Linked DNA regions of Homo sapiens: region 2 is linked to region 1. Evidence: fine-mapped expression QTL. A gene starts in region 1. The other region holds a variant in brackets. All regions are shown on one strand. Distances are between the middles of the regions.

Region 1 (2,916 bases):
CTGAGTAGCTGGGACTACAGGCATGGGCCACCACGGCGGCTAATTTTTGTATTTTTAGTAGAGACAAGGTTTCACCACATTGGTCAGGCTGGTCTCGAACTCCTGACCCCAGGTGATCCGCCTGCCTCGGCCTCCCAAAGTGCTGGGATTACAGGCTTGAGTCACTATGCCCTGCCTAAAAAACATTTTTAACGAAAAAAACATATTTTAGGTAAGAATAAATGTCAATTGTATAGTGTATCAATTATATCTCAATAAAGCTGTTACAAGAACAAAATGTATGTGAAAAGTCACCAGTAAAGAAAACCTGCCATTATTACTAAGAGCCAAATCTGTGGTGATTTTTAAGAAGCTCCCACCATGAAGGAAAAGGGGATCTCACCTGAAACTAACAACAGGTCCAACCTCAGAAAAGATGTCCTTCAACTGCTCTTCAGTAGCTTCATAAGGAATGTTCCCCACTAAGGAAGAAAATAGGTAACATTAAAATTCTGAGTTTATAACATAGATCTTTAGTGAGAAAGTAAACTTATATCATCAAATATAAGACTCAAAATAGTGTTCTCCAATCCCAATTCCATTGTATTTCTTCAGACCTCTTAACAAAGGAAATATACCACTGAAACTAAATACAAAATGTGTAGGTACTCTCAAATGTTAGTTCTCAGACTGATCTGACACGTGTTAGATTTTCCTTAACTTTGGTGCAAATAAATACTTTGGCACTGGTATTTACCTAAAGATCTGCAAGTCTCATCAGTGACTACAAAAAATATCAATGTTATTTAATATAATTTTTAAAACAGGTTCCTATGTATTTCCACACATACAACATTTAAGGGAGAATGACGATGAATGTAGTGAAAGATGTTTAAAAAGTATTCTGAACTACTTTGTCATGTCCCTTTCAAATGGTACTCTAAAATAATCACACGTATTTTTAAAAACAACTTATTTCAGCCAAAAAGATAATTCAGAATCGTTTCGATCCTTTTTAAAATTCCTCTGAGGAGATCTTAATAGTTCATTCATTCATTCACTTACAAGCCATCTCAGGACACCAGGTGGCCGCTACCACTATTGATGCACTAAAATGTTACAGATAAAAAGCAAAGGATGAAAGTCCTTAGGAGAGGACAGTAAGTGGACACTAGGATCTATACCCTCAGCATATAGTCTGTATTCTGGGGCAGAGGATGAGAAGTAGTACGGGACAGTGAGGAGCTGTTACCGTGAGCCTTCTCCTCTAGAGAATAATTGAAGCTCATGAAAGGAGAAACGCACAGAAGCTGAACGCTAGTCTAACTTCCCCACTGATATTGCGGAAAGCCTACGAGACCTCGGCAGAATGGGAATATCTCTTTGCTCATGAGTCCACCAGGTTGGACGCCCTACAGGATAAGCAGGGAGAACTGCACGTCCGAACCGTCAGCGGCTCCGGTAGCGATTCATGAGATAGAAGGTGCAGAGGGGAGTCCCTCCCCGAAGCTTGACTACAACGAATTCCTCTCACCGAACACAGAACGTAGAGAACGATCCACCGCTGGGTCTCTCACAGTCAAACCCGCCATAGCTCTGTTGAGTCGGCTTCCGGTGCGCCAAAGCACACTTCCGTACGGAGCACAAGCCCAGCGCTGAGCACGCTTCCGTACGGCGCGTGAGCCGGAAGGGCCTGGGCGGAACGGACGCAGAGCCCCTCCCCTGGAGACATTCTGTTAGCCGCAGGCGCGAGTTGCGTCCACCGGAGGGCTATATTCTCACTCCTGAGATTAACTCTGTTCCGAGCCAGATGCAGGCGAGTCCAGGCTAATTTGAAGGGTTTCAGCCTGCAGACTTCCTTCTTATTAATTTTCTCTTAGGTTGATGCAAGTACTCCTCAACCACAATAAAGGCGCAGCGGCTTTACCATGGTAACAGGGAAGTCCTTTGCTGACAACTGTGGGGCTTGCATTTTAGTTCCGCCCTATCAAGGGAGGGAAATGCTTGGGCCCGTCCCAGCAGCGTGCATATTATTTGCTAAACCTGTTCGTGTGTGGAGTGAGATGAGGAAAGGGCATGCCAGCCGAGAGAAGCATAGTTAAAGAAATGGGAGAGGTAAAGGGAGAACAGACCTCTGTCCTCGTGTAGTCCGTGGGTTCCATGTGCTTCGTGGTGGGGCGGTGCGGCAGGGGATTCTGGCAGGCAGAGTATCGGAAACAGAAAACGTCATTCATCGGTTTTTCCACACTTTGGTGCCCACGCGCCTGGGATATGGCATGCAGGGCAGGTCGTTGTATCATCCCGGAAAGGCAGACCCTGCCGGGGTTGGAGGAAATCCAGGGGGCACCTCAGGAGGACAGGGTTAGGGGATAAGCAAAGGAAGGAGCCAAGAGCGCTACCTTTGAGGGACTTGTCCGAAAAAGGAAGACGGTAAAATAGCCACGGAATTGGAGGCATGGACGTTTTTATTAATTCCACATGTATTAAAAGTATATGGGCCGGGCGCGGTGGCTCATGCCTGTAATGCCAACACTTTGGGAGGCCGAGGCGGGCGCATCACCTGAGGTCGGGAGTTGGAGACCAGCCTGGCCAACATGGAGAACCCCTTTTCTACTAAAAATACAAAATTAGCCGGGCGTGGTGGCGCATGCCTGTAATCCCAGCTGCTCAGGAGGCTGAGGCCAGAGAATCGCTTGAACCCGGGAGATGGATGTTGCGGTGATCCGAGATCTGCCATTGCGCTCCAGCCTGGGCAACAAGAGCGAAACTCCATCTCCAAAATAAAAGTATATGAAATATGATAAATATTTAGAAAAAATTAATAAGTGCTAGTTTACACCATGAAGCATATCACTTTAAGAAGTAATTCTGGTAAAGATGGAAAGTTTGAGAAGAGTATACCCATTTCCATGACTCTAGAGTCCCATTTGCAATCAC
Region 2 (2,916 bases), 250 kb before region 1:
ATACAAAAAATTAGCCGGGCGTGGTGGTGCACACCTGTAATCCCAGCTACTCAGGAGGATGAAGCAGGAGAATTGCTTGAACTCGGGAGGTAGAGGTTGCAGTGAGCCGAGATCGTGCCACCACACTCCAGCCTGGGCGACAGAGGGAGACTCCGTCTCAAAAAAAAAAAAAAAAGAAAACCTTTGCTCTGATGGAGGAGACTTAGCTTTCCAAACAAGACCCAATAAAGATGGCATTAGGCTAACTAAATTTGTCTCTTCTCTGTCTTCCCTTTTTTCCCTGCAATTTACTCAAAGGAAGAAATAAAACCCTTTCATTATCTTTTAACATTACATAAAAATCATCTTCAAAGGAGAAAACCAAATTTCATGTTTGCATTAGTGCATCTTTAATGTTAAGGCTAGTTTTTTAAATAACATTTTATATCTCTATCCAGTTTTAATTAGTTGACCATAAGGTAAGGTTTTCATGAACTTTTTAGAACGCTCTACAATTTTCCATCAAACAGATCCATTTTTTAAGAAAATCCTCTTCTAAGAAAACCCTGTTTTCTTAGAAAATTGATGGGCCTGGATTCTGGCCCCAGAACAGTATCATTTCAACGTTTTAACCTACGGAAAAAAGCTAAATAATTTCTTTTAAATCCTAGCCAACTTGTTTATATCCACAGAATTTTTTTTATAAGACTGACCCTTTACAAACCCTTTTCATTTTGCTTAAACCTTCGGTTTTGCTCTGTTACTCTTTTAGGTTAAAACAATCCTTAAGGCCAGGAGTGGTGGCTCACGCCTGTAATCCCAGCACTTTGGGAGGCCGAGGTGGGTGGATCACAAGGTCAAGAGATCTAGACCATCCTGGCCAACATGGTGAAACCCCGTCTCCACTAAAAATATAAAAATTAGCTGGGCATGGCGGCACATGCCTGTCGTCCCAGCTACTCAGGAGGCTGCAGCAGGAGAATCGCTTGAACCCGGGAGGCAGAAGTTGCAGTGAGCCGAGATCACGCCACTGCACTCCAACCTGGCGACACAGAGGGAGACTCTGTCTCAAAAAAAAAAAAAAAAAAAAAAAGACAATCTTTAAAATCCTCTGAACTAGACAAAATTACATTCCCTTTAACAAAAGCCATATTCCCAATGCTTTTACATGTATGTAAAACTGTTTCTCCAGTGTTCTTAATTACATGTTACAAAGTTAACTCTTAGCAACTTTTATTTTTAGTGAAAAACCTGATAAGTAAGTAATTTTAATTAGGTACTGGGGTGGAGCCTAGGACAGACGGAAATGAAGATAAGGTCTGACTCTTTTTAGCATAGCTAGCTGGCATAGCTCTCCGTATGTCCCCAGGCCTTATCTATAATCC[A/G]ATGCTCCAAAGTAGGTAAATCGAACAATTTTCAAAAGTCAAAGAAAGTTTGACCTTAAAGCATTTAGCAAATCTGATATCTGACCTTAATTTAGAACAAATGTCTGCATTTTCAAGACATTTTATTTTACCAATAATCTTTAAAACTGTTTTTATTTCCAAAAGATTACTAAAGTCTTGAGAACAAAAAAGCATTAGTTTCTATTTTTCTGACAAAATATTTAAGTGCTTATTTTTCTAAGCCAATTAATCAAAGGGGTTTTTGTTTGTTTGTTTGTTTGTTTTTGTTGTTGTTTTTTGTTGGTTTGTTTGTTTTTTGAGACAGAGTTTCACTCTTGTCGCCCAGGCTAGAGTGCAGTGGCACGATCTTGGCTCACGGCAACCTCCACCTCCCTGGTTCAAGCGATTCTCCTGCCTCAGCGTCCTGAGTAGCTGGGATTACAAGCATGCGCCACCATGCCCGGCTAATTTTTGTATTTTTAGTAGAGATGGTTTCACCACGTTGGCCAGGCTGGTCTCAAACTCCTGACCTCAGGTGATTCCCCCCAACCTCGGCCTCCCAAAGTGCAGGGATTACAGGCATGAGCCACCATGCCTGGCAATCAGAGCTCTTTTATATATAAACATCACACACACACACACACACACACACACACACACACACACACACACACACGCAATATATATATATAAATACAGACAGACAGAAGATTCGGCACTTGTAGGAGCCACCGCACCCAGTCTCTATGCATTTTTTAAAGAGTTATTCCTGGCTGGGTGTGGTGGCTCACGACTGTAATTCCAACACTTTAGGAGGCCAAGGCAGGAGGACCACTTGAGCCCAGGAGTTCCAGATCAGCCTGGCAACATAGTGAGACCCCATCTCTACAATGAAATTAAAAAAAAAGTTAGCTGTGTGTGTGGGCATGAGCTCGTAGTCCCAGCTACTTGGGAGGCGGAGGAGGGAGGATATCTTGAGCCCGAGTTCAAAAGAGTTATTCTTAGGAGTTTTATGCTATTTTTGTCATCATTAATGCATTTTTATTCCATTATATCTTCTAGCTGGTTGTTGCTGGCTTACAGGAAAACTATTGATTGTTATTTGGCCGCTTTTCTGAACTCTCTTCTTAAATATCTGAGTGTTTCAATTGATGCCCTTGGGTGTTCTCTTGATAGACAAACAAATTAACTGGAAATAATGGTAATTTATGTATCTCTTTCAATAGTTATTCCTAATTTCTTTTTCAAATCTTACAGTATTAGCTACAAGTCAGCTTTTAACATTTACTTAGCCTGGGCCAAGAGTACGATTGGAGGCCTACTTACAACACATCAAGGAACCATGAATTGGAACACAAAGAGAAGCAAGAAAACCTATGCTTGTTACTACTGGGAAACAATCATTGTTATGGAAGAATCTATCGCTCTTGAGACAGAAAGGATTTGACAAGTTAATTTGTCTTTTCTCTCACTAAGCACATCTGCTACTCAGATTTTCCTTGTACTTCTAAGCAGTGTCTGATATAGTGAGCAGCAGCATAACTCACAAAAC

Evidence for each region. PIP is the estimated chance that this variant, and not a neighbour inherited with it, causes the effect.
Region 2: its variant is fine-mapped to the expression of CSTF2 in esophagus mucosa (GTEx, PIP 0.97).

Annotation. Positions count from the first base shown.
Region 1 is chrX:100,819,072-100,821,987 of GRCh38, reverse strand. CSTF2 (cleavage stimulation factor subunit 2) reads right to left here and starts at 1,597. Exons shown (of 14, transcript NM_001325.3): 1 at 1,514-1,597; 2 at 383-461. The coding sequence starts at 1,571. RefSeq lists enhancers at 1,366-1,525, 1,806-1,855, 1,866-1,925.
Region 2 is chrX:101,070,140-101,073,055 of GRCh38, reverse strand. No RefSeq gene overlaps it. Among named protein-coding and RNA genes, the nearest start is that of TMEM35A, 7.3 kb to the left of the region's middle. The variant A/G (reference allele first, on the strand shown) is at 1,365.